Homo sapiens: one gene and its partners. The protein of the gene in region 4 purifies or fractionates together with the protein of the main gene of each other region. This does not show direct contact. Each region holds a gene or a part of one and is shown on either strand. Other genes may lie near its edges.

The links.
Region 1: the proteins of TCL1B (region 4) and CCDC6 purify together in Homo sapiens (affinity purification with mass spectrometry; 2 studies listed by BioGRID and IntAct, with this or other methods). This does not show direct contact.
Region 2: the proteins of TCL1B (region 4) and MED16 purify together in Homo sapiens (affinity purification with mass spectrometry, with the first as the bait; one large-scale study listed by BioGRID). This does not show direct contact.
Region 3: the proteins of TCL1B (region 4) and STRN4 purify together in Homo sapiens (affinity purification with mass spectrometry, with the first as the bait; one large-scale study listed by BioGRID). This does not show direct contact.
Region 5: the proteins of TCL1B (region 4) and MED1 purify together in Homo sapiens (affinity purification with mass spectrometry; 3 studies listed by BioGRID and IntAct, with this or other methods). This does not show direct contact.
Region 6: the proteins of TCL1B (region 4) and MED9 purify together in Homo sapiens (affinity purification with mass spectrometry; one large-scale study listed by BioGRID and IntAct). This does not show direct contact.

The regions. Positions count from the first base shown.
Region 1 is NC_000010.11:59,794,362-59,798,968, reverse strand, and holds part of CCDC6 (coiled-coil domain-containing protein 6), read left to right. Parts: intron 1-4,371; coding exon 4,372-4,496; intron 4,497-4,607.
Region 2 is NC_000019.10:868,790-873,396, forward strand, and holds part of MED16 (mediator of RNA polymerase II transcription subunit 16), read right to left. Parts: intron 3,330-4,607; coding exon 3,137-3,329; intron 2,465-3,136; coding exon 2,248-2,464; intron 158-2,247; coding exon 74-157; intron 1-73. UniProt on the Homo sapiens protein: Component of the Mediator complex, a coactivator involved in the regulated transcription of nearly all RNA polymerase II-dependent genes.
Region 3 is NC_000019.10:46,736,451-46,741,057, forward strand, and holds part of STRN4 (striatin-4), read right to left. Parts: intron 2,937-4,607; exon of another isoform or gene 2,860-2,936; intron 2,439-2,859; coding exon 2,335-2,438; intron 1,788-2,334; coding exon 1,714-1,787; intron 452-1,713; coding exon 373-451; intron 53-372; coding exon of another isoform or gene 8-52; intron 1-7. UniProt on the Homo sapiens protein: Calmodulin-binding scaffolding protein which is the center of the striatin-interacting phosphatase and kinase (STRIPAK) complexes.
Region 4 is NC_000014.9:95,684,393-95,689,544, reverse strand, and holds the start of TCL1B (T-cell leukemia/lymphoma protein 1B), read right to left. Parts: upstream 3,120-5,152; 5' UTR 3,078-3,119; coding exon 2,916-3,077; intron 1-2,915. UniProt on the Homo sapiens protein: Enhances the phosphorylation and activation of AKT1 and AKT2.
Region 5 is NC_000017.11:39,419,639-39,424,245, forward strand, and holds part of MED1 (mediator of RNA polymerase II transcription subunit 1), read right to left. Parts: intron 4,184-4,607; coding exon 4,059-4,183; intron 3,808-4,058; coding exon 3,689-3,807; intron 281-3,688; coding exon 79-280; intron 1-78. UniProt on the Homo sapiens protein: Component of the Mediator complex, a coactivator involved in the regulated transcription of nearly all RNA polymerase II-dependent genes.
Region 6 is NC_000017.11:17,483,073-17,487,679, reverse strand, and holds part of MED9 (mediator of RNA polymerase II transcription subunit 9), read right to left. Parts: intron 1-4,607.

The DNA of each region.
Region 1 (4,607 bases), on a different chromosome or scaffold from region 4:
AGGCTGGAGTGCAGTGGCATGATCTCAGCTCACTATAAACTCCACCTCCCAGATTCAAGCGATTCTCCTGCCTCAGCCTCCTGAGTAGCTGGGATTTATCAGCACAAACCACCACGCCCACCTAGTTTTTGTATTTTTAGTAGAGATGGGGTTTCACCATGTTGGTCAGGCTGGTCTCGAACTCCTGACCTCGTGATCCATCCACCTCAGCCTCCCAAAGTGGTGGGATTACAGGCGTGAGCCACCACGTCCAGCCCACTTTTATATTTTATAGCCTTTCTCTTAAATGTAATCACTTTCATAAGAAATAAAATTAGGATTTTATTCTCCAATGTTTTTTTAAAGAAAACAACTTCTTTCTTTTCCCAGATGAGTAAAGTTCTTGTGATTCCAGTAAATATCACATTAAAAAACCACTTAGTTCCCAAAGACTTGTCCTTTATCCCAGACCTCCATTTTGTAAATGTGAATAAAAACTCCACAATTGGAAATGGAAATATGTCAAATAGAAAGCATCACTAATTCATAGTCAAATCACAAAATAAACTTTTAGTATTAGATGCTGAGGGCACAGAAAAGTCCTGCGATAATAGCACAACTAAAGGAAGGCTTGGCTGAATATCTCTGTCATGGAAACAAAAAAGACAGATGGAAGAGCATACTTAACAGCTTCTTGTTTTTACGTAATTCAGAAAAGCAGTAAGTGGAGTTCACATTGCTTGGCCTCTAATAGCTGATAGTATGTTCAGAGTAATTGTCAATAGGTGATTCCTATCCACATTTCCCCAGACAGCTCCTCTGTTTTCCCTTTTCACTTTGCCAGTATGGAACCTACCCTGTGCAAGGTATTGTGGTAGATGTTGGGAACTCAAAGGTGTAAAGAAAGCTAGCCACATTTGTGCAGTGATAAAACAAGTAATTCCCCAGACCGGCTGGTGACTTCTGCACTGACTCTTGACGAGCAGGGCTTCACATGCCACATGTAGGTGAGGATCGCTTTTAGATGTTCTCAAAATATGGACCCCAATCCAAACCTGTCTAACAGTAAGGAGAGTCTGGACATACAGATGTTAAAACACAGTGGAGATGATCCTGGACTCCTACATGAAGACTACACAGAACATTATATTGGACTGGGGATTGTTTCTTCCTTAAATACCAGGTTCTTTTAGGGAACATTGGCAGGGCTTTCATTCCTTGTATTGAATATTCTCAAGTCGTGATATTCCCAGTGGTTTTGTTTGCTGTTATGGCTGAGACACACACACACACACACACACACACAACACTCTCACTCTCTCTCTCTCTCACTCACTCATGCCCACACTCTCCCTGTCTTCTTCTTGTTGATTTTTTTTTTTTTTTTTTTTTTTTTTTTTTGCTAGGAGGTTCAGTTCATTGGCTACTTAATATCTATCTCCAGTTTGGTCAATTGTTGATACATCTTTTGACATTTCTGGTTTTCTTGCATTTGATATTTACTCCTTTGCTCGATTTTCTCCACTTTATTCTTGTTCTTTCTCATGTCTTTTGCTTTCCTGAATCTCAGTTGAATTCCTGACAGGGTTTGACTTAAAAAAATCATTATTGTGGTGAGACCTCTCAATATAAGATCTATCCTCTTATTTTTAAGAATACAATACAGTACTGTTAACTGTAGTATAATGTTGTGCAGCAACTCTCTGTAGTTTATTCGTTTTGCTTAACTGAAACTTGATGGCTGTTGAGCAGCAGTTCACCGCCATTCTACTCTGTGTCTATGAGATTGGCTATTTAAACTCCTCATATAAGTGGAACCAGGCAGGATTTGTCCTTCTGTGACTGGCTTATTTCACTTAGCATAATATTCTCGAGGTTAATATATGTTGTTGCATATGGCAGGATTTTCTCCTTTTAGACTGAATATTCCTTTATATGTCTATATATATCACATTTTCTTTATCTGCTCATCCGTTGATGGACAGTGAGGTTGTTTCCACATTTTTTTTTTTTTTTTTTGAGATGGAATCTGGCTCTGTCGCCCAGGCTGGAGTGCAGTGGCACGATCTCAGCTCACTGCAAGCTCCGCCTCCCGAGTTCATGCCATTCTCCTGCCTCAGACTCCCGAATAGCTAGGACTACAGGCACCCGCCACCATGCCCAGCTAATTTTTTTGTATTTTTTTTAGTAGAGACGGGGTTTCACCATGTTAGCCAAGATGGTCTCGATCTCCTGACCTTGTGACCTGCCTGCCTCAGCCTCCCAAAGTGCTGGGATTACAGGCGTGAGCCACCGCTCCAGGCCTCCACATTTTTGCTATTGTGAATAACACTGTAGTGAATATGGGAGTGCTAATATCTCTTTGAGATCCTGATTTCAATTATTTTGTATAAATACCCAGAAGTGGGATTGCTAGATCATGTGGTACTTCTAGTTTTAATCTTTTGAGGCATTTTCATACTGATTTCCATAGTGGATGCACCATTTTACATTCCTACCAACAGTGTATAAGGATTTTTTCTCCGTATCCTCACCACCACTTGTTACCTTTTTTTTTCTTTTATACAACCTACAAATTGGGAGAAAATTTTTGCAACCTACTCATCTGACAAAGGGCTAATATCCAGAATCTACAATGAACTCAAACAAATTTACAAGAAAAAAACAACCCCATCAAAAAGTGGGCGAAGGACATGAACAGACACTTCTCAAAAGAAGACATTTATGCAGCCAAAAAACACATGAAAAAATGCTCACCATCACTGGCCATCAGAGAAATGCAAATCAAAACCACAGTGAGATACCATCTTACACCAGTTAGAATGGCAATCATTAAAAAGTCAGGAAACAACAGGTGCTGGAGAGGATGTGGAGAAAGAGGAACACTTTTACACTGTTGGTGGGACTGTAAACTATTTCAACCATTGTGAAAGTCAGTGTGGTGATTCCTCAGGGATCTAGAACTAGAAATACCATTTGACCCAGCCATCCCATTACTGGGTATATACCCAAAGGACTACAAATCATGCTGCTATAAAGACACATGCACAGGTATGTTTATTGTGGCACTATTCACAATAGCAAAGACTTGGAACCAACCCAAATGTCCAACAACGATAGACTGGATTAAGAAAATGTGGCACATATACACCATGGAATACTATGCAGCCATAAGAAATGATGAGTTCATGTCCTTTGTAGAGACATGGATGAAATTGGAAATCATCATTCTCAGTAAACTATCGCAAGGACAAAAAACGAAACACCACATGTTCTGACTCATAGGTGGGAATTGAACAATGAGAACACATGGACACAGGAAGGGGAATAACATCACACTCTAGGGACTGTTGTGGGGTGGGGGGAGGGGAGAGGCATAACATTAGGAGATATACCTAATGCTAAATAACGAGTTAATGGGTGCAGCACACCAGCATGGCACATGTATACATATGTAACTAACCTGCACATTGTGCACATGTACCCTAAAACTTAAAGTATAATAATAATAATAATAAAAATGAATAAGAAAAAAAATAATAATGGCCAACTTAACAGTTATGAGGTGATATCTCACTGTGGTTTTGATTTGCATTTCCCTGATGGTTAGTGGTGATAATCGTCTTTTCATATATCTATTAGCACATTTGTGTATCTTTTTTAGAGAAATGTGTATTCAAGTTCTCTGTGCATTTTTTCATTGGACTATTTGAGTGTGTTTGTTTGCTTTGAGTCATAGGAGTTACTTATGTATTTCGCATATTCACCCCATACCAGGTATATGGTTTGCAAATATCTCCTCCCATTCTATAGGTTGCCTTTTCAGTCTGTTGACTGAAAGTTTCCTTAGCGCAGACACTTTTTAGTTGAATGTAGTCCCACGTATTTGTTTTTGCTTTTTTTTTTTGTTGCCTATGTCATATCCAAGAAATCATTGCTAAGATCAATGTCAGGGAGCTTTTCCCCTATTTTCCTTCTAAGAGTTTTATAGTTTAAGGTCTTATAGTTAAGTCTTTAATCCATTTTGAGTTGACTTTTGTATATAGTGTAAGAGATAAGGTCCAGTGTCACTCCTCTGCATGTGAATATCCAGTTTTCCCAACACCATCTGTTGAAGAGACTGTTCTCTTTCCCCGTTGTGTATTCTTGGTGCCCTTTTTGAAGATCAGTTGACCATATACGTGTGAGTTTATTTCTGGGCTCTCTGTTCTATCCTAGGAATTAACATTTATTTCCCTTGTTATCCACACCATTTAGTGAGCCCATCATTCTTTTCATCTGTTTGTATTTTTGTGGGTGATAGAGAACTACTGCGATTTAAAACCTCCTAGATAGTTGAAGACACCAGATAGTTGAGCTTAAAATGATACTTAATTTGTTGTTATATTTTAGGTCTATCATATGCAAGTCACACGGTTGGTTTCACGCCACCAACTTCACTGACTAGAGCTGGAATGTCTTATTACAATTCCCCGGGTCTTCACGTGCAGCACATGGGAACATCCCATGGTATCACAGTAAGTGTCCGTGGGGTAGGAAGCAGCACTTTACTCCTGAAAGTGGTACCGACTGGTGTTCTGGAGAACAGGATCGGTGCCCTTAGACATTTGCCCTTCTTCCTGCCTCCT
Region 2 (4,607 bases), on a different chromosome or scaffold from region 4:
GTGGGGGCTAGAATCAGCTGAGCCATCCCCAGCGGCACATCTCTGGGAGTCAGCGGTTCCGGGGGCCCCTCACCTGGTGCAGGCCTTGCATTCCTCCGTGGGGCAAGCGCCAAGGTGCAGCCTCCGCAGGTGGTCGATCTTGGGCTGGCCTGGGGCCCTGGCGGGAGAGGGGAGAACGTGAGGGAGGCCTGGGCACCACGAGGCCAGGTTCCGGCAGGGGCATCTGTCCACAGGCGGGGGTGGAGGGAATGGCCGGCCTCACACCATCTGCCAGGTGGGCCCAGATGTCTGTGAACAGTGAGGTGGGAGGTGCGGGACCACCTGAGACAGGCCCAGTAAAGGGGGCGGGACCCCCCACACGGAGGAGGGTTGGTCTCCCAGGTGCCTGGGGAGCTTGAGGCTTAGAGACCCAGTAAAGGGGACGGGGCCCACACAGGGACGAGGGTCGGTCCGCCACGTGCCCGGGGAGCCTGAGGTGCAGGGAAGGTGCTTGTGACGCTCCCATTTGAGGCTGGACAGAAGCAGGTACATGGGGACTTCCACACCACCTCTGCCCAGACACCCGGCCTGGAGGTGCCGGGACCTCTGAACGACAAGATTCTGGTGGCAAAAGCTGCCCTCGGTGGTGGGTGGGGGACCTGGGTCTGGGTGGGGGTGGGCCGGCTTATTCTGCTCTCATTAAATATCTGAAATTTTCCCAGTTTACAAGCCTCTGACGTAACCGTCCTCTCTTTCCATCAAGTCTTTTCCTGAAACCCAAACCCTCGTGTGTGACTCATTAGGAGGCCCCTCCCACAGTGAGCACGAGGAAGAAAATGCTGGAGGTCCTAGAGCCAAGCCAGGGCGCCTTCCCGGAGGTCCCGGAGCCAAGCCGGGGGTGCCTTCCCTGGAGGTCCTGGAGCCGAGCCGGGGCCTTCCCCGGAGCAGGGCTGCTGGAGGTTCACTTCATTTTCTTCCTTTTGCTCATCTGTGTTTTCTAAAATTCCAGCCCTGAGCAATCAGTGGCTCAGAGGGTTTGCATGTGCTCCTTGTCAAACGTGTGTCTGAAACAGGCTGGGGGTCTGACGGGCCTGGGTTCAAATCCTGACTCGGCCACTTCCTGACCGCGTGACCCCAGATGAGTGGGGTGACAAGGTCCCACCCTTTCCAGGCTGGGTTTCCTCACCGTGAAATGGGGTGACAAGGTCCCACCTCACAGGGCTGCTGGGCAGCCAGGGTCAGCTCAGCACACTTGGGTTGCCCAAACCCCGCACATTCCAGAGAAAGGCCAGCCCCGGGCCCTGCAAGGTGACCTCTTGCCCCCGGGAGATCCTCCTGATGAGGTGTCTGCTCAGCAGGGCCCTGGGCCATATGCTAAGGCGTCTCTCTCCATCCACAGAGGGATCTACGGCGAGGCCTGACATCCAGGGGGGCCAGAGACTAAGGGCAGAGGCTAAGGCAGGGCGCCCTGTACAGCGAGGCCAACACACAATCAGGAAACACCAAGGCAAGGCCGGGGCGGTGGCTCACACCTGTAATCCCAGCACTTTGGGAGGGCGAGGCAGGTGGATCACCTGAGGTCAGGAGTTCAAGACCAGCCTGGCCAACATTGCAAAACCGCCTCTATACCAAAAATACAAAAAATACCTAGGTGTGGTGGCTCATGCCTGTAATCCCAGCTACTGGGAAGGCTGAGGTAGGAGAATCATTTGAACCCGAGAGGCAGACGTTGCAGTGGGCCAAGACGGCACTACTGCACTCCAGCCTGGGCAACAGAGTGAGACCCTGTCGGGGAGACAAAAAAAAAAAAAAAAAGGGAGAGGGTGAATGGAAGGGCTGGGTGCCCGTGTTGGGGGTGGTTCGTGACACAGCAGAAGACACCACTAGGGGATGGAGTTAGGGGCACCTAGAAGGAAGCAGCAGTCATGGCCATGACTGGAGAACATGGAGGGAAGGAGCCGTATGGATTCGGGGGGGTCCTGGGGCAGGACATGGAGGGAGGGAGCCGTGTGGATTCGGGGGGACCCGGGGCAGGACATGGAGGGAGGGAGCCGTGTGGATTCGGGGGGTCCCGGGGCAGGACATGGAGGGAGGGAGCCGTGTGGATTCGGGGGGTCCCGGGCAGGACATGGAGGCGGGGAGCCGTGTGGATTCGGGGGGACCTGGGGCAGGACATGCAGGGAGGGAGCCGTGTGGATTCGGGGGTCCCGGGGCAGGACACGGAGGAAGGAGTCCTGTGTTTGGGGACCAATGCAGGGACACACGCACCTGGCGAGGCCGTCGAGCTGCAGGGTGGCAGCACTGCCAGGCAGCGTGGGCGCCCGGCCAAACTGCAGACGAAGGGGCTGCTTGGGCTGCAGGCGGCTAACCAGGCCGTCGCTGGCTGGCAGCCAGTCCAGGCTGGGGATAAGCAGCTGGCTGGGCAGCAGGCAGCATTCATCCACCAGCGCCTCGTCCGGCTCGCTCGCTGGGCCCTCATCGCGACCTGCGGAGAGAGGTGGCGGAAGTCTCAGCACCCCTGACTGGGGCACCGCCCGGCCACCCGGGACGTGCTGGGAGCCCCTCCAGTTCAGGAGCACCAGGTCAGGGCCCCAGCTCTGTCTGCCTGGCTGGGTGACCCCGGGGTTCTCTCACCAGGTCGGGGCCCCGGCTCTGCCTGCCTGGCTGGGTGACCCCAGAGTTCTCTCCCCGTCTCTGGCCTGTCATGAGACTCCCTCATTCACTTAAAAAGTATGTGGGAAGCACTGTGCCTTTTCCAGACACTGGGATGTAAGAATGACACAGCTCACCCTCCTCACATACACACAACCCGACAAGGAGAGACAGCAAACAGGTGCCTGGAAGTGGCTGCCATCCCAAAAGCACCCACACAGAGCATGGACCTGTGCTAGGAACTGGGGAAATAGCAGATATCAAGGCAGAGCCACTGCCACCTGCAGGGGCTTATGTTCTGGCGGGGGGCTCAGGCAGGACTTGTGTTTTGGTAGGGAGAGGGGAGCGGGGAGAGGGGAGAGGGGAGAGCGGGGAGAAGGGAGAGCGGGGAGAGGGGAGAGCGGGGAGAGGGGAGAGCGGGGAGAGGGGAGAGCGGGGAGCGGGGAGCGGGGAGAGGGGAGAGCGGGGAGCGGGGAGAGGGGAGGGGCGGGCGGGGGTGCCTCACAGCAGATCCAGAGCTTGGTGAGCAGGCGGAAGAGCAGGGACATGCTGTCCTGGGTATCCGAGGTGGCCGTATACACGGGCAGGCAGCTGGGCTTCAGAAGGCCCCAGATGCGGATGACCACCATCAATTCCCGAAGCATGCCCAGCGAGGTGCCGTCCCGCAGAAAGCTGTGGCCCGGCCTCAGCAGGGAACCCTGCCCGAAAGAGGCATCGGTGTGGCTGGGGCGGCGGGGGGCAGATGGCGATGGGATGAAGTGTCTTGGGGTCGGTGGAACCCCGACCGGGGGGCAATGGGCAGGGTCTGGGACATTTGTGGTGGTCAGGACTGGGGTGCTTCTGGCACCGAGTGGGTGGATGCCGGGGACGCTGCTCAGAGCCCTGCAGGGCCCAGGACAGCCCCATTTGCAGAGTCGTCCCATCCCTGAGAGTCCACAAGACTAAGACGAGGCTCTGGCTGAGGCCAATATCCCCACCTGCACGTGGAGGAGCAGCCGCCCCCTCCTACAGCTGCGGGCCCGGGCCCCTGGTGACTGTACTGGGAGCTGAGAGGACCAGGGAAGGGAGGCCCCAGGGGTGGCCCCTGGCAGCCTAAAGCCCCACAAAAAGAAGAGAGGGACTTCAAACCGTCCGTGATGGGCGCGGTGGAGAAGGGCGGGCCCCAGGGCAGGATGAAGCCGGGTGGGTGGGGCAGAAGAAATCACAGCTGGGGCAGGACAGAGTGTACCGGCGGGGGGGTGGGGGCGAGGTTGGAGCCCTGGTCAGGGGCGCACAAGCCGCAGAACTGAAGGTGGAGGTGTGGATGGAGACTTGATTTCAAGGCCGCCCACCCCAGGCGCAGGGAGCTGGGGAGGGTAAGGGGTGGGGGCAGCAGCAGCAGAAGCAAGGCGAACCGGCCTTCGTGTAGGGGTGGGGCTGAGAAGGAGCAGGGCCTGGGAGGCGGGGCTTTGAGAATGGGCAGGAAGGGTGTGGCCAAGGAAAGGCTTCTTACAGCAGAGGCTTCATGGAGAGGAGGGCTCCGAGGTGGGGGAGGGCTCCGAGGTGGGGCAGGGCTCCGAGGTGGGGGAGGGCTCCGAGGTGGGGGAGGGCTCCGAGGTGGGGCAGGGCTCCGAGGTGGGGCAGGGCTCCGAGGTGGGGCAGGGCTCCGAGGTGGGGGAGGGCTCCGAGGTGGGGGAGGGCTCCGAGGTGGGGCAGGGCTCCGAGATGGGGCAGGGCTCCGAGGTGGGGCAGGGCTAGGAAGTGGGGCAGGGCTAGGAAGTGGGGCAGGGCTAGGAAGTGGGGGTTTAAGAAGAGACAGACTCAGGAAGTGGGACTCCAAGTAGGGGTGGGACTCCAACCAGGGGCGGGGCTGAGGTGGGACTCCAAGCAGGGGCGGGACTCCAAGTAGGGGCGGGACTCCAAGTAGGGGCGGGACTCCAACTAGGGGCGGGGCTGAGGTGGTTTTGAGGGGCAGGGGCAGGGAAGCGGGGTCCTGA
Region 3 (4,607 bases), on a different chromosome or scaffold from region 4:
ATATTACCCTTGGGAAATAAAAAGCCATGCTTCATAAATCTTCACAAGGTATCTAAAAAAAAAAAAAAAAAAGCCACACAGGGCTCCTATGGCCACTGAGACAAAAAAAAAAAAAAAAAAAAAAGCCACAGAGGCATTCAGGGACACATTCCAACAGGGGTGTCCCCACGTCTGCCTCCTGCAGCGGGTTTCCCTCCCTCTCCCCAGGCCAGGCTCCGCCCACAGGGTGAAAGCCATTCCAGCCATGGCTGGCTAAGATCCTGATAGTTCAGCATCCCCAGTGGGGACGGAAAAGGACTGTGGAGTCTTTGGACTTATCTCTCAAGCCAAACGTGTCACGTGTCCCCAGCCCCCCTCCCCGAGCACACTCACTGTCGGAGAAGCTGCCGCCCCTCCTTCCACACCAACGGGCTGTTCTCCAGGGTGACCGATTCCACGGGGCCATTGGAGACTGGCGGGTGAGAGAACGGAGGCTGTCTTAAGTCAGGCCACTGCCACCTACCCATCACCTCCTCCATCTTCCTCACCCCTCCAACCCAAATCGGTCACTGTCGCAGGTCCTGTGGCATCACTTCCTGAGTGTTGGAACCCTGCTCTCTTCCCTTACTCGGGGATTCCTCCTCCTTGAAGCGTTCCTCATCTCTAGGTCTCCTGACTGGTGGTTCCCCAAACTGGCCCCCGACAAGATAAGGGTGTTATCTCAAAACCAGAAAGCTGGCCTGGTTCTGAGAGAAGGGCCGACTGGGTTCAAGCCCAGCTCTGCCCCATCCCAGCTGTGTGACCCTGAGTTAGTGTAAGCCGTGTCAGTTTCGTCCTCTGAGAAATGAGCTTAATGATAACAGCATCTCCCTCTTGGGAGTGCTGAGAGGATGCAATGAGATAATTTGCTTAGTATTTTATTCAAGTCTTTCCTGGGCATCTACGCTGTGCCTGGCCAGGGGCCTGGGCTACATGGGTAAACAAAGACCTGCCCTTGTGGAACTTCCGTTCTAGTGAGAGGAGCTGGCAGCAGGTAATGACCATCACTATCAGCTGAGCACACAAGGTCTTCTCAGCTTGCCTCGGCCAAGCTTCCCCCTCACCCAGCCCGCCCTCCCACATCCTCTGCCCTACACTGTTTGCCCAGGCACACTGACCGACTCCCTGTCCCCTAACCCTTTCAGCGTGCGTCTCTGTATCTGTGCTCTCTCCCCTGACTCTCCTGCTGGGGAACGGAGTCATCTTTCAAGGAGCTTAGACTCTAAGGGACCAGAGGGTAGAGACCATGTCTCCCGTGCTCTCTGCTGTATTCCTGATCTGTGATACAAAGCCTGTACCCTACAAATAAAGTCTTTTTTGGATGAACGATTGAACGGCAACCCTGTTCAAACGCCACCTCCTCAGTGACGTCTTCCCCGGCTTTCCCGCACCGTCCCCAGCACTCTATAAATAGCCCTGGCGCCCACTCCTCGCAAAGGGATCCCGTGAGCTGCTCGTGTGTCTGCCTCTGTTGCACAGGGGGACCCAAGCGGGACTGGCCCCCAGGGTCCAGCACGGGACCTGGCAGCCCATAGGGAGGGCTCTGAGAGTGAGATTCCGCCCCTCCCCAGCCCCGGGGCCGATTCTGCCTTCTAAGGAGCAAAGTGAGAAAGAGGCACCCCATCTTCCTGCTTCTCCAGAACACTCAGCTTCTGCGGGAGGGTGCCGACAGTGCGAGCATCAGAGGGTGGGTACCTTGTTCTGACACATCTGCTTTCTTCTCCCCCTGGTTCAGGTCTGTCCCAAACTTCAGTTTATGATATTTGGCCCTAAAAGAGCAAATGATTAATGAATAAGAGATGCGGGAGAGTAGACAGGGTCAGTAGTTACCTAAGGAATCCAGAATCCCAAACCCCAAATCACAGGGCCTCCCCCAGCTCGTCTACTACTGAGGCTGAAGCATCCCCCCACACCCCTGGCCTGGTGGAAGAAACCACTCCCTGGAGTCAGGCAACCTAGGTTGCTCTCAGGGGTCCTTGAGGAAACCATCAGCCCTTGAAACCCCAGTTCCTTATCTGAAACAGGGCTAACAATACCCGTTAGGCTATTGGAAGGTATAAGGGATAACGGAGGTAAGGACTATACGATATTTGGCGCACAGTGGGCCACTAGCATCGTGAATATCGTTCCTGGTGTCTAACCCAAATCCCACCTACTCTGTCCTGTTTCTCCCCTAGAATCTTATGGTACTGGAATGATGGAAAAGAATGTCGACCCCAAATCTCCCTTAGCTGGAAGGAGGCGTGGCTGGTGGCCTCCTGACACTGTGCTTGAGACGGACCCAGAAGGCAGGCCCAGGGCAGGATGAAGGCTCACCTTTCCTGCTTCAGCGCATACTCTAGCATCTTGATCCGCCGCACCAGGTCCGTCTTTAGATTCTCCTGCCCTTTCCTCTCTCCCTGAAGGAAGGCCACCTGAGCCTGGGAGGGCAGACAGGAGGCAAAGGGAGATAATGGGGCTCAGGCTCAATGCCGGTGTGTCTATCACTCACCCAGGTATAGTGCCAGCCCACAGTCACCCCACAGTAATGGGCAGCAGCCACTTCCTCAGGCACAAAGATCCCAAGCCAGGGTTCAGGGAGCACTGAGAGGACAGGATGGATCTGTTTCCAGGGCCCCCTGCCACGTCACCCACAACGAGGGCCGAAGGGGAGCCCTTAACCCCTGAGATAACAATGGGGCCAGCCTGGGCCTCACCTGGTGGCTGCCTTTGGGGGGAAGTCGGGTCAGGGATGGCAGTGGAGAGGAGGGTGGGCATTCACCGCCCTGGACTACCCCTGACGCCCTCTGGCAGGTGCTGTCCCTAAGGCTGCTGGTGGAGGTGGCGTCCCACTATTCTTACCAGAGCATCTGTCTCTGGGAGGCGTGGGAAGCTACTTCTGGAGCTTAGGGACAAGAGTGGGTGGCTCGGCTCGGCTCCTGCTCCAATAGAAAAGCTTTACAAGCCAAGCCCGCTGTGGGGACCAGCCGTCCCACTGCATTCCGCCCAGGGTGTGAGAGAAATGTGCCACAGACACGACCCCGGGTTCCTGCCAAGCACTTCACACCGTCTGCTGGCTTGAGCTGCCCCGTCTGCTCCAGTCTGTCAACAGGTCATTTGGAGACACTGGGCCCACTGCCTTCCAGGCAGGATCCTGGCCCCTGACCATGGTCCAGAAGCTCTTCTGCCAAAGCCCTGGCCCAAGGCTCATCTCTGGCTTCTCCCCAAGCACCCCACCGTTCCAGCCCAGAACAGCCAGAGCCCAGGCCCAACTTAGACACTTACTCGCTACATGATCTTACGCAGGTCATCAGCCTTCTCTGAGCCTCCATTTGCCCCTCTAGAAAATGAGAGTCACAAGAGTGCCCTCCCCTCATGTGCTAGGTTCTGCTCAGTCAAGGCCTGGCACAGAATAAAGGCTAACAAATGCCAGCTTCTACTTCTTTCATCATTTTTATTCTCCCTGTCCATTGTTCGCAACTTCGAAATGGGCCCAGTTCCTTACGGGAGGTAGGATCCCTTGGAGACCCCAGATCAACTAGAAATGTCTGTGGATTGGCCAGGCACAGTGGCTCACGCCTGTAATCCCAGCCCTTTGGGAGGCTGAGGTGGGCAGATGACTTGAGGTCAGGAGTTCAAGACCAGCCTGGCCAACATGGTGAAACCCCATCTCTACTAAAAATACAAAAAACTTAGCCAGGCATGGTGGTACACACCTGTAGTCCCAGCTACTCGGGAGGCTGAGGCAGGAGAATCGCTTGAACCTGGGAAGTGGAGATTGCAGTGGGCCAAGATCGTGCCACTGCACTCCAGCCTGGGCGACAGAGCCAGACTTCGTCTCAAAAAAAAAAAGAAATACATGTCACCAGTTACCTTATAGAAAAGAAAACTCATCTGTCCGCTTCAAGAATGGGAAATTTTTTTCCTTTTTAACACTTTTTACCAACACATATGTATATAAACATCCAAGGCCAGACAGGGAAACTACTTATATGACATCAGCATCTCTGAAGCATGAGTTTCTGTCCTTTGTGTATCTTCTCAGTCCCCCAAATCTACTCTCTGAATCACTGGAGAAGGTGTGAGGAGAGGCAGACCGACCACCGAAGACAAGTCCTGACTTTCCTCCTCACTCTCCTCCCTTCCCTCCTGGGGTTTGGTGATTGATCCCTCAACCTCCCAGGGGCAGTTCAGCCTGCCGGGAACCTACACCTTGGTCAATACCTGCCACTGTTTGGTGACTGCCCACACACATCAGGTGCCCCAGTAAGGCGCTGGGGAATAACAGAGGAGCCATGTGGTTCCTGCACCCACAGGGCTCAGTCCCATGCAGGAGACAGGCATGAGCAGCAACTCACATGCAATGTGACTAGGACCCCATTGCGGGAGCGAAGGACGCTATGGGAAGAGGGACAAGAGGCGACAATTCAGCTAAGGCCTGAAGCTGAAGAGAAGTTAGCCAGGGGAGGGAAGGGCCCTGCTGGCAGAGGACGGAGACAAGAGCTGCATGGTGGGCTTAAGGAACTCTAAAAAAGGCCAGGATGGCTGCTTCAGAACCTGTAAAAGGCTCAGTGAAGCCATGGAAGGGTTTTAAGTACAGAGAGGTAACC
Region 4 (5,152 bases):
CAAGTGGAAAATGTTTACCATCAGATCCTTTACAGAAAAAGGTGGCTGATCTTTGCATTAGATGTGTCGCCCAGGAAGCCTAATTCCCACCCTAAGACATCGATCTATTTTTAAGAAAGAAGGGGAAAAAATACTTACTAAGTAGGTCCCTTATCCCACCCGTGGCTAAGTTATTTGAAGAATCCATTCTATTTCCACTGAATCATTTAAAAAAAAAAAAAATCTTAACTGTTTTTTTTGTTTTGCTTTGTTTTGTTTGAGACGGAGTCTTGCTCTGTCGCCCAGGCTGGAGTGCAGTGGCTGGATCTCAGCTCACTGCAAGCTCTGCCTCCCAGGTTCAAGCCATTCTCCTGCCTCAGCCCCCCGAGTAGCTGGGACTACAGACGCCTGCCACCGCACCCGGCTAATTTTTTTGTATTTTTAGTAGAGACGGGGTTTCACCGTGTTAGCCAGGATGGTCTCGATCTCCTGACCTTGTGATCCGCCCGCCTCGGCCCCCCAAAGTGCTGGGATTACAGGCGTGAGCCACCGCACCCGGCCAACTGTTTTTAAGAGTACAGTTTGGTGGCATTAAGTGCATTGACATGTGGAACCGTCGGCACTATCCACCTCCAGAACTTTTTATCTTCCCAAACTGAGACTCCGTACCTGTTACTAACATTAACTTCCCATCCTCGACTCCCTCCAGCCCCTGGCAGCTACCATTCCACTTTATGAATGAGACCACTCTGAGTACCTCATACAAGAGAATCTGTCCTTCCGTGACTGGCATATTTCATTTAGTATAATGGCTCCAAGTTTCATCCGTGTGTCTGACTTTTAAGGGTGAATACTTCATGGTTTGTGTTGTTTACCCATTCATCTATCAATGGACACTGGGGCTGCCACCACCTTTTGGCTAGTATGAATGATACTGCTGTGAACATGGATGTATGAATACATGCTTAAGTTCCGGCTTCAGAGTCTTGTGGGTATATATCCAGAAGCGGCATTGCTGGATTATGCCGTAATTCTTTCTTTGAGAAATCCTCATCCTGTTTTCCATAGTGGCTGCACCATTTTACAGTGCCCTCCATTAACACTTTTTCAGGCTTTTGAAAAACTTAAAATATTTGCTCCACAATTTTTGCATGCTTTATTTAGTGTATGTACAGAAAAGCCTTTCCATGTTCTCTACCAACATTTTTTGAAATAACCTATTTGAACTTTTTTTAGGAAATGTGTTATATTGTTTAAAGTGTCAGTGAACTGGCTGGGCGAGGTGGCTCACCTGTAATCCCAGCACTTTGGGAGGCCAAGGTGGGCAGATCACTTGAGGTCAGGAGTTCAAAACCAGCCTGGCCCACATGATTAAACTTTGTCTCTCCTGAAAATAACAAAAAAAATTAACTGTAAAAAAAAATCGCCTGTAATCCAAGCTACTCGGGAGGCTGAGGCATGAGAATCACTTGAGCCTGGGAGGTGGAGGTTGCAGTGAGCCAACATCACACCAGTGCACTCCAGCCGCAACAGAGCAAGACTTTCTCAAAAAACAAACAAACAGGCAGTGAATTGTTTACGAAGACCTAAACGGCATTTTTTTTTTTTTTTTTTGGGACGGAGTCTCACTCTGTCACCCAGGCTGGAGTGCAGTGGTGCGATCTCGGCTCACTACAAGCTTCGCCTCCCGGGTTCACGCCATTCTCCTGCCTCAGCCTCCCGAGTAGCTGGGACTACAGGCGTCCACCACCACGCCCGGCTAATTTTTTGTATTTTTAGTAGAGACGGGGTTTCCCCATGTTGGCTAGGATGGTCTCGATCTCCTGATCTCGTGATAAGCCCATCTCGGCCTCCCAAAGTGCTGGGATTACAGGCGTGAGCCACCGCGCCCAGCCCTAAATGGCATTTTAAATATCCGGATATGCTTTTACCACATTACACTAAGGTACAGCCAGCCCCCCATTTCCATGGATACTGCACCCATGAATTCGACTAACCTCAGATTAAAAATATTTTGGGAAAAAAAGAAATTCCACAAAGTTCCCAAAAGCAGAGCTTGAAGTGATGTGTAGGTGTAGCATTAGGTGTTATTAGTAATCTGATTTCAAATATAGTAGAGGATGCGCTGAGGTTATATGTAATTACTACCCAGGTCATTTTCTATCAGGGACTTGAGCATCCACAGTCGGTCCTGGAATCAATTCCCCACCGCCACCCACACCAGAAACGCTACTGTATTTACTTCATCCCTCAAAGACTGGCTGTGATCTAAAGCCCTCATCTACAGCCGTTTCCTGAGTCATTATCATTATCACCTGGGGAGCTTTTGAAAAGTAAAGAATCTAGGACTCCACCCAAGCCTCCTGAATTAATTTCCAGAATCTGTTATCAGTCAAATGCTTCCCCAGGCCATTCAGGCGGTGAGCCATGTATGTGAGCATGTCTGTGACTAGCTTGCCACAGAGGTATATTATTCTCATTTTGCAGATCAGTAATCTGACACCAATGTCATGTTCATCCTGTTGGCCCACCTGGTGCCTCCAGGCTGCAATGCTTTTGCTTATACTACTCCTGCCTCCTTTCTAGACCTGGAGAACTCCTACTCATCCCACAAAGCCCAGCTCAATAGCTGCCCCATTTGTGGGCCTTCCCAGCAGGCACTGGGAATGGCACTAAGCCCTGAGCTACCTTAGCCTCGGCTTCACCACGCAGGACCACATTATCTCATGTGGATAAGCTTGTGCCTGTGGTCCCTTTACGGGGGGTGTTCCTGGGGCCAGGGCTGGGCATGGACATTGCTGCGCTCCTAGACCTGCACAGAAGTGAGTTTTCCAGTGCGGGTGAGAACGGCCCCCTCTGACCCCCACCGCGGTCCCACACGGGCAGGGGTCAGTGCGCAGCCCTCCCCACAGCCTCCCCTCGTGCCCAGGACTCACTCTGCTGCCCTGGGAGGCCCTGGCCCATTCCCTACGCGAGGGATTGAACCGCACGACCACAGTCACCCAGGTTCTCCCCTCCTCATCTTCGTAGATGCCAGGCCTCTGGATCCACAGACGGCCAGGGGGCACCCCTAGACGCACAGAAGCTTCGGAGGCCATGGCAAGTCTGCAACCGGGACCCGCCTCTAGGCTCACACGTGTAGCTTTCCAGCTGCGCAATCTCCTTAAATGGAGCAGCTCCGGCGTGGGTGGGGCCCGGGCCGGCAGTGGGGGCGGGGCCGGCAGTGGGGGCGGGGCCAGTCGGGGGAGGAGGGGGAGGAGGAGGAAGGGGGAGGAGGGAGGAGGGAGGAGGGAGGAGGAGGAGGGGGGAAAAAAGCAACCTGCAGCAGGGGCTAGGCAGGGACGAGGCCAAAGAGCAGCGGAGTTAGGAACCCGGCCTGGGTCTCCTGGAGGGGCTGTGGCTGGACCGGCAGCTGCTGGAGGCAAAAGGGCGGCTCCCGGGGATAGAGCTGCCCAGGCTTCACCCCAGGCCTCTGCAAGGAATTTGGCTCCTAAGACCTATTCCACCTCCCTTCCACTGGTCCCAGTCCCTCCGCAGCCTCCTCCCTGAGCACCCCTGCCCAATTTTCTGTCAGGTGATTCCCCTCCTTTGCTCCCCACGACCCCCTGCCAACCATCCTGCCCCAGATCCTGAGCTGGCATGCACGACCCTGGTCTCTCCTATCCCTGTGGCCATTCCTTTAACAGGACTCTGTGTCAGGGACCCTTCTCTGAGCTTAGAGCTTAGAGGCATGGGGGGCGGGGGGCGCTGTAACCTCAGTGGACTCTTGCCCCTGGAGGTATCTGGTGAAGGCGCATCCTGCACAAATCAAGCTCCCTCTCCTTAGAAAATAAGCCAGTGCACTATCAGCATCTGAGCTCAGGATCAGATAAAGCCCACAGAAACAAGGCCACCGGAGGCCACGTGGCCACCTGGCCAGCCCATCCTTGGCCATGGGGCCCAGAGTGCCCACTTGGCCTGGTCGTCTTACTTGCTCGACTTTGTCAAGAGGCCTCAGAAGCTCAAGAACATAGCAAGAAGCAGGTCCGTTCTATAAGCACCCTGGGCTGCTTCTAAATGCACCATGAATAGGAACCTTTTCCTTTTGAAAACCACAAGCATGATTCTTCTAGTTCAAGTGAAGATTAGTATTGAGATGATGCCATTCTGCTGGGGAGATGTGAAAATGATTTCTGGACAGTCCTGATCCAGTGTAAATGGCAGGTAGGATAACCACTTTTGAAGAACTCCCTGGGCAGCTTCTGTGGAGGACTGAGTCTTGTTTTCACAGCAATTCCACCTCCATCCCCAGTGTTTTTCCAAGGAACCAACACTTGGGGTGGGAATGGAGTGGGCCAGGAAGACAAGGGACATCACAGTCTCATATAATGTGATCCATACATGGAATCACGTACGTGTGTCACCTTTGCCATATTCCATTGGTCAGGGGTAGGTCCTATCCTTACTCAAGGTTATGAATACCAGGAGGCAGGGATCATGGGGACCCCTGGTCTCCTGGGCCCCCCTGAAGCCTGTTTGCTGTAGGTACCTACCCTATGGGACTCCTCTGAGGATCAGATGAGGCTGTGTGTATAGTGTTAAAGCCTGACACATAGTGAATACTTGAAATACCCTGGTCAATAGTTATGTTCTCAGACTAGTTCCCTCTCCCAGGCAGAATCCATCATTCCTACCCTTGTAACCCCAATGCAATTGCTATTTATCTCTATCATTTTCTGTTGCAAATATATATTTTGATATTCTCAACCTCACTCCCTGATGGGCAGGTGTGTGGCTGTCAGTGGGGTTGGAGGTAAAGGTTGCCTAATATGTGGGGAGCCCCTATGCCATGTCAGGCATTTTTCATAGGGTATCTCACTAACACCTCCCAACAACTCCATAAACTAGAGACCGTCACCCCCATTTCATAGATGAAGTATCAGAGGCTTGAGTGGCTTAGCAACCTGAATGAAGTGGGTAGCAGAGGAAGGATATGGACCCAGCTGTTCCTGGCTCTAACATGCATGCTGCTTGTTGACTGCCTTGGCCAAGTTTGGCTCATTACATGGAAGAGGCAGAACCTGGAGTAGGGAGATCCACAGTGGCTACTGTAGAAATGGTGGTGGGGTCTGAAGATGGAGACTGAGAACACCTTGCCATGAGTGGGTGGTCAGAAGGTAAGCAGAGGTCTCCA
Region 5 (4,607 bases), on a different chromosome or scaffold from region 4:
TGATGGGCCACCAATTAAAGAACCACTGGAGAAGTAAGTTTCCATCTTCCAGTAAGCATATCAAAGGAAAGGCAGTACCTTCTTTCAGAATAGTTCTTTTGACACAGCTTCCAATGAGGGTGTTATAGGCCACTTGGTGTCTGATCAGATTTAGGATAAGAGGAACTCGGCCAGGGTGCTGAAAGGTGATTTTGCTAACAAGGGTTCCCTGTAGACTTCGGCCATCTGGAAGAGGAGCATCCTTGTTGAGGAAATAGCAGTGCTGCTGACCAGGAAGAGCCTGGGCAAAAAGAACAGTTAACGAGTGCTATTTAGTTACCTATTGTATTCCAACCACAAAGTATCCTGAAAAAACCTACTACTCAAAAAAGTGCAGAAAAGTCTCCACAGTGAATGTTTTCATCAGCTGATATTATAAATGTCAATCAATTACTAATTAGGCTGAAAAGATGTCTTTTTAGTAAATGCACTATGCTAGTGATTTCCTAACCTAGCTAACATAAAAACTACCTCAGAAATCTGTATTAAAGAGGTTCCTAAACCATAAATGCAAAATCTCTTTTTTTTTTTTTTTTTTTTGAGACAGAGTCTCCCTCTGTTGCCCAGGCTGGAGTGCAGTGGTGCGATCTCGGCTCACTGCAAGCTCCGCCTCCCGAGTTCATGCCATTCTCCTGCCTCAGCCTCCTGAGTAGCTGCGACTATAGGCACCCGCCACCACGCCCGGCTAATTTTTTTTGTATTTTTAGTAGAGACAGTGTTTCACTGTGTTAGCCAGGATTGTCTCCATCTCCTGACTTCGTGATCCACCCACCTGGGCCTCCCAAAGTGCTGGGATTACAGGAATAAACAACCACGCCCGGCTGCAAATTCTCTATTTTTAATAAAACACCTATATAATAATAATGCAGCCAGAATTTGGTAACCACTACTTTAGTCTATTGTAAAAGATTCAGATAAATACAAGTCCAGATGAGGTTTTGGAACGTTCCCTTATTATTATTATTATTACTTTTGAGACAGGGTTTCACTCCCATTACCCAGGATGGAGTACAATTGTGCAATCTTGGCTCATTGCAATCTCTACCTCCCAGGATGAAGCCCCTCAGCTTCCCGAGCAGCTGAGACTACAGGCATGAACAACCACATGTGCCTATTTTTTTTTTTTTTTTTTTTTGAGACAGAGTCTTGCTCTTGTAGCTCAGGCTGGAGTGCAGTGGCACGATCTCTGCTCGCTGCAAGCTCCACCTCCCGGGTTCACGCCATTCTCCTGCCTCAGCCTCCCAAGTAGCTGGGACTACAGGCGCCCGCCACCACACCCAGCTAATTTTTTGTGTTTTTTAGTAGTGACGGGGTTTCACCATGTTGGCCAGGATGGTCTCGATCTCCTGACCTCATGATCTGCCCGCCTCGGCCTCCCAAAGTGCTAGGATTACAGGCGTGAGCCACCGCTCCCGGCCACATCAGCCTAATTTTTGTATTTTTTTTTTGTAGAGACAGGATTTTGCCGGAGGATGAGGCAGAAGAATCGCTTGAACCTGGGAGGCAGAGGTTGCAGTCAGCCGAGATCGTGCCACTGCACTCCAGCCTGGGCACCAAGAGCAAAAAAAAAAAAAAGAAAAAAGAAAAGAAAAGGACAGGCAAGGTGGCTTGCGCCTGTAATCCCAGCACTTTGGGAGGCGGAGTAGGGTGGATCTCAAGGTCAAGAGATAAAGACCAATCTGGCCAACATGGTAAAACCCCGTCTCTACTAAAAATACAAAAATTATCTGGGCATGGTGGTGCACACCTACAGTCCCAGCTACTCAGGAGGCTGAGGCAGGAGAATCACTTGAACCTGGGAGGCGGAGGTTGCAGTGAGCCGAGATCGCGCCACTGCACTCCAGCCTGGCAACAGAGCTAGCTAGACTCCATCTCAAAAAATAAAAAAATAAAAAAGAGAGGATTTTGCCACGTTGCCCAGGCTGGTATTGAACTCCTGAGCTCAAGTGATCTGCCTTGCCTTGGCCTCCCAAAGTGCTGGGATTACAGGTGTGAGTCACTGTGCCCAGCCTCTTAATTACTGCTTCCAGCATTTTCCTCTCTGTAAGTACTTTCAGGATCTTTCCAGATTCTAAGCTCATGGCACTTGAAAGAATTAAACAGTAAGAATTTATAACACCTAATTATGATATTCTAAAAGTTCAAAATACCATTAAGAGTCTGTCACCCCGCCAGGCAAGGTGGCTCACGCCTGCAATCCTAGCACTTTGGGAGGCCGAGGCGGGCGGATCACGAGGTCAGGAGATCGAGACCATCCTGGCTAACATGGTGAAATCCCGTCTCTACTAAAAATACAAAAAATTAGCCAGGCATGGTGGCAGGCGCCTGTAGTCCCAGCTACTCAGGAGGCTGAGGCAGGAGAATGGCATGAACCCGGGAGGTGGAGTTTGCAGTGAGCTGAGATCTCACCACTGCACTCCAGCCTGGGCGACACAGCAAGACTCCGTCTCAAAAAAAAAAAAAAAAGTCTATCACCCAAAATTTCTTTTTCTTTTTTATTTTTTTGAGACGGAGTCTTGCTCTGTTGCCAGGCTGAAGCGCAGTGGTGCGATCTTGGCTCACTGCAACCTTCGTCTCCCGGGTTCAAGCAATTCTCCTGCCTCAGCCTCCCGAGTAGCTGGGACTACAGGTGCATGACACCACACCCAGCTAATTTTTGTATTTTTTTAGTAGAGATGGGGTTTCACCCTGTTGGCCAGGATGCTCTCGATCTCTTGACCTCGTGATCCACCTGCCTCGGCCTCCCAAAGTGCTGCTGGGATTAGACATGTGAAACACCACGCCCAGCCTCGTTTTTTTTTTTTTTTTTTTTTTTTGAGACGGAATTTCGCTCTTGTTGCCCAGGCTGGAGTGCAGTGGCGCAATCTTGGCTCACTGCAACCTCTGCCTCCCGGGTTAAGTGATTCTCCTGCCTCAGCCTCCCAAGTAGCTGGGATTACAGGCATGTTCCACCACACCCAGCTAATTTTTATATTTTTAGTAGAGACGGGGTTTCACCATGTTATCCAGGCTGGTCTCAAACTCCTGATCTCTAGTGACCACCCGCCTTGGCCTCCCAAATTCCTGGGATTACAGGTGTGAGCCACTGCACCTGGCCAATCACCCAAAATTTCAACAAAGAACTGTACATTGTTGTTTCCTAATGGAAGCTCATGCCCTTTTACTTCAATACATTTCCGAGATTTCTTTTTTTTTTTTTTTTTTTTGAGACAGAGTCTCGCTCTGTCACCCAGGCTGGAGCACAATGGCACAATCTTGTCTCACTGCAACCTCTGCCTCCCAGATTCAAGCCATTCTCCTCCCTCAGCCTCCCGAGTAGCTGGGATTACAGGCACCCGCCACCACACACGGCTAATTTTTTGTATTTTTAGTAGAGACAGGGTTTCCCTATGTTGGCCAGGCTGGTCTCGAACTCCTGACCTCACGATCCGCCTGCCTTGGCCTCCTAAAGTGCGGGGATTACAGGTGTGAGCCACCGCGCCCAGCCCATTTCTGAGATTTCTGTAATTTCCTGCCTTACTAAAGAAATAGGACATGATCCAGCAGTCTTGAAGAAACTTATCTGACCTCAATAATGCTATAAAGGAAGATTATGATCTTGGGTCCAAACATAACCTACAACATTCTAGCTCCCTAGGGCTTTACTTACAGCATAAAATCTCATGTTGTGATTCAAAGGTATGGGGTCAGGGTCCTTTGATAGCTCAAACTGAGTGATCAGTTCATACAGGGGTGCATAAGTTGGTTGAGTTTCAAACAATGGAATTCCTGGAAAAACAAGAATCAATATAATGATCATGTTAAGATGAAAACACTGACAGCTCAGTTTCCCCTTGATATCTACATTCATTCACCCAAAAGAGTACTTACTAAGCATTTACTAGTACAAAGCACTATAACATCTTTACCAGTAATACTTCAATGAGGCATGTAAGACTGAAAGACGTCATGATAACCTGACTTTGAAGTTTCTTTTTCACATTTATAACAAGTACTAGATCCTGATGCTCAAAACTCACCTGTGCAGTTCTGCAGTTTCTGAACAAATGCTCTAGATACTGGGATTGGCTGGGGAAATTTCAAGAAGAAACAGGCAGGAAGATCAACACTGTTGGCACTGGTGATTGAGGAGAAGGAAGGGGTCCTTCAAAAAAAAGAGGGTGGAAGGGTTGGATTCTGACTTGATATAAAAATGAAAAACCCAAACACCTTTTTTTTTTTTGAGACAGATTTTCCCTCTTAATGCCCAGGCTAGAGTGCAATGGCGTGATCTTGGCTCACTGCAACCTCTGCCTCCCGGGTTCAAGGGATTCTCCTATCTCAGCTTCGTGAGTAGCTGGGACTACAGGTGCCCGCCACCACGCCCGGCTAATTTTTGTATTGTTAGTAGAGATGGGGTTTCACCATGTTGGCCAGGCTGGTCTTGAACTCCTGACCTCAGGTGTTCCACTTGCCTCAGCCTCCCAAAGTGCTGGGATTACAGGCGTGAGCCACCATGCCTGGCCACAAACACCTATTCTTAAACATGTATGTATCACACAGACACATAAGTACAAACTCTCAAAAGC
Region 6 (4,607 bases), on a different chromosome or scaffold from region 4:
TCAAGAATGAGGCCACGGACCCTCACAGTGAGTGTTACAGCTCTTAAGGTGGCGCGTCTGAAGTCTGTCCCTTCTGATGTTCAGATGTGTTCGGAGTTTCTTCCTTCTGGTGGGTTCGTGGTCTCGCTGGCTCAGGAGGGAAGCTGCAGACCTTCGCGGTGTGCGTTACAGCTCTTAAGGCAGCATGTCTGGAGTTGTTCGTTCCTCCCGGTGGGCTCGTGGTCTCGCTGGGCTCAGGAGTGAAGCTGCAGATCTTCGCGGTGAGTGTTACAGCTCATAAAAGCAGCGTGGACCCAAAGAGTGAGCAGTGGCAAGATTTATTGCAAAGAGTGAAAGAACAAAGCTTCCACAGCATGGAAGGGGACCCAAGCGGGTTGCCACTGCTGGCTCCGGCAGCCTGCTTTTATTCTCTTATCTGGCCCCACCCACATCCTGCTGATTGGTAGAGCCGAGTGGCCTGTTTTGTCACGGCGCTGATTGGTGCATTTACAATCCCTGAGCTAGATACAAAGGTTCTCCCCGTCCCCATCAGATTAGTTAGATACAGTTTGGACACACAGGTTCTCCAAGGCCCCACCAGAGCAGCTAGATACAGAGTGTCGATTGGTGCATTCACAAACCTTGAGCTAAACACAGGGTGCTGATTGGTGTGTTTACAAACCTTGAGCTAGATACAGAGTGCCGATTGGTGTATTTACAATCCCTGAGCTAGACATAAAGGTTCTCCACGTCCCCACCAGAGCAGCTAGATACAGAGTGTAGATTGGTGCACTCACAAACCTTGAGCTAAACACAGGGTGCTGACTGGTGTATTTACAATCCCTGAGCTAGACATAAAGACTCTCCACGTCCCCACCAGACTCAGGAGCCCCGCTGGCTTCACCTAGTGGATCCCGCACCGGGGCTGCAGGTGGAGCTGCCTACCAGTCCTGCACGTACGCTTGCTTTCCTCAGCCCTTGGGTGGCTGATGGGACTGGGCGCCCTGGAGCAGGGGGTGGTGCTCGTCAGGGAGGCTGGGGCCGCACAGGAGCCCATGGAGTGGGTGGGAGGCTCAGGCATGGCGGGCTGCAGGTCCCGAGCCCTGCTGCGCGGGAAGGCAGCTAAGGCCTGGCGAGAAATCGAGCTTAGCGCCGGTGGGCTGGCACTGCTGGGGGACCCAGTACACCCTCCGCAGCTGCTGGCCCGGGTGCTAAGTCCCTCATTGCACGGGGCCAGCAGAGCTGGCCGGCTGCTCCGAGTGCGGGGCTTGCCAAGCCCACGCCCAGCCGGAACTCCAGCTGGCCCGCAAGCGCCGCACGCAGCCCTGGTTCCCGCTCGCGCCTCTCCCTCCACACCTCCCTGCAAGCTGAGAGAGTGGGCTCCAGCCTTGGCCAGCCCAGAAAGGGGCTCCCACAGTGCAGTGGTGGGCTGAAGGGCTCCTCAAGTGCTGCCAAAGTGGGAGCCCAGGCAGAGGAGGTGCCGAGAGCAAGTGAGGGCTCTGAGGACTGCCAGCACGCTGTCACCTCTCACTTGTGCAAGTATTTTGGTAAGATCATTTTCTAAAAGTAGGGATTCTGGGTCAAAGGTTATATATATTTAAATTTTTGACAGATATTACCAAAATGCCCTCCAAAAAAAAAACTGTACTGATGTAGATTATCTGTAGCCACGGAGGACACACTTCTCCATCCCGCCCTGGATGATACTGGCTACTACTTACCTATCAACTGTGTTTCTCTGCTCCAGTTCTGCCAAGACCTATGAGGCCTTCCGGAGAGGGAGGCCTTGAACTCACACCCTTGCTTTCATCTGCTAACAGCATTACATGTAAAAAATATTCTTTTTAGCAAAGAGTGACAAAAGGTGCTGCTGCTAAACGGAGTATGAAAATCACTGCACTACAAAATGCCCAGAACGTGTTCATCCACTCCCGAACCCTCGACACGGGGACCACCTCCCCAGTCAGCCTTCCTTCCTGTACTTGAGTTTCCTCCCTCCACAGTTACCAAGTCATTCCTGCCTGGAGTCTGGCAGATGGCAAATATCCAGCATAGACTTGCTGTCAGCAGGGGACGGGGGGAGGGTGCAGTCCCACCTACACACTCTACTGGCCACGCTAGGACCCCCAGGCTTGCACCTGTGTGCCCCCTTCTTCCAGCCACCATCCTGCCAGCTCCATCTCCTCTAGACCAGCCACCTCCCATTGCCACTGCCTTCCTGTGGACCCAGGTCCTCCCCTCTTCTGAAACACTTCTGCCCCACCTACCTTTAGAAACCCAAGTCTGAGCAGGTCACTATGCTGCTTAAAAATCCCAGATGGCGGCCGGTGGCTCACGCCTGTAATCCCAGCACTTTGGGAGGCTGAAGTCAGCAGATCACTTGAGGCCAGCCCCGTCTCTACTAAAAATACAAAAAAAAAATTTTTTTTTGTATTTTTACAAAGGCGTGGTGGCGTGTGCCTGTAGACAGAGACGAAACCCTGTCTCTACTAAAAATACAATTTTTTTTTGTTTTGTTTTTTACAAAGGCATGGTGGCGTGTGCCTGTAGTCCCAGCTACTTGGGAGGCTGAGGCACGGAAATCAAGTGATTCAAGTGAACCTGGGAGCCAGAGATTGCAGTGAGCCAAGACACGCCACTGTACTCCAGCCTGGGCGACAGAGTGAGACTCCATTTCAAAAATAAAAAATAAAATAAAATAATTCCAGATGGCCTCCTACCCACAGATAACACCTTTCAGGCAAATTCAAACTGTGAAGGAGACCCCCCCAGTGCCACCACAAGTGCTTCCAGCCTTCCTAGGCAAAGCTTCCCACCCTTCCCAGGACCCACGTAAATGCTTGCCTGGCATTTCTCACGCCCACTAAGGAAGTGCTGACTCGCGAAGGCCTGCCTTCGTGGGGCTTGCCTCTGCTGGGGCCCACCTTCTGGTTATAAGTCATACTGAGTGGATGGAAATGACATGGCAGAGGAGTGAAGAGGCTTTTAGGCAGACTGGAAACACCTCATCTGAGCAGTCTATGAACACCCCCTATCTGTGGCTGCTCATCCTGCTCCCTGGGGTGTGGCTGAGGGAGAAGAAAGTGAACGGCAGAGGCCTGCAGTAACTGCATGCGGACTATCCCCGGGAAGCCAGTGTGGGCACTTAGCGGGGGCCGCTTCCTGCACAACCCGGGAACGGGTCTCAGCTGGCATGGAAGGCCAGGGCAGATTAAAATAGATACTTGAGTGGGAAGAAGACAGTCAATAACACCCTGTTCCCACAAAAGAGGTCTGGCTGGGGCTCTGAGGTCTTGCTGACCTGCTGAAGCGGCCAGGCCAAGCTGGAGGGGCCAGACAGCGTGCTCATCACTTGAGCCCCATCTGTGGTGGCAAGGACGGCTCCCCTCTACCTACCTAGCAGCCTTAGACCTTGTAAAGAATTAAAACATTGAATTTAAAAAATGTTTTTAAAGTACCCAATGTCGACAGATTACTCTTACAAAGTGAGCCAAAACCATCACGCAAGGCAGCAACAACTGTAATTCAGAAGGCCTAGGCTGAGCTACTTCATTCCAAACTCAGATTCAAATTTGTTAAGTTTGAAGGAAAAAATAATAATTTTCCCCAATCTAACAGACCCCATTTCATTACTCCTTTATGATGCATTTTTAAAATGTAGCATCTATATATATCAAGAAAGTCTCAAAGTTGGGATTTATAATATTTCTTATAGGCATGAAAATGGGATTTCTTTTCCCTTTCCTCATTCTTTTTTTTTTTTTTGAGATGGAGTCTCGCTCTGTCGCCAGGCTGGAGTGCAATGGTGCGATCGTGGCTCACTGCAACCTCCGCCTCCCGGGTTCAAGCGATTCTCCTGCCTCAGCCTCCCTAGTAGCTGGGATTACAGGCGTGCACCACCACATCCAGCTAATTTTTGTATTTTTAGCAGAGACAGGGTTTCACCGTGTTGGCCAGGATGGTCTCGATCTCCTGACCTCGTGATCCACCCGCCTCGGCCTCCCAAAGTGCTGGGATTACAGGTGTGAGCCACCGTGCCCAGCCTCCCTTTCCTCATTCTTTAAAAATAACATAAATGTGTAGTTTAATTTTTCATTCAACTGCGGGAAAGACACTAGAAGAGATGAAAGTGCTATGGGTTCCAACTCCAAGCAGGGCTGTCCCAGCCAGAGCACTCCCAGAACCAGGTGGGTCCCTGGGGGTACAGGAGAGGCTCTGGTTCACAGGGCTCTGTGCAGCATTTCTGTGGGCACTTCTAGTGGAGGGGCTGGAGGGTCTGCCAGCCTGGAGGACTCCGCCCACCCAACAGCACCTGCAGCAAGAGGACCCTCTGTGGGCTTTGTGTTGGGTTATTCAGGCAGACAATCTGAAAATGGTCTGCAGAGATCCCTGAGTAAAGGCCTAAGTTTGGGCTCAATTTGAGAAGAATGGAGAACAAAGAAAAATTAGCCAAATAACATTCACAAGATAAAATAAGCATAAAGGCAAAGAGACTAATTAAATGCTGATTATAATACTCAAAAGCGAGGCTCAACGACCTGGCCAATGAGTAGTATCAACAGGCTTGGAAGTAAAGAAGCAGATTAAAGACGAAATGTTCCATTAACAAAAGCATCATGATCTAGCAT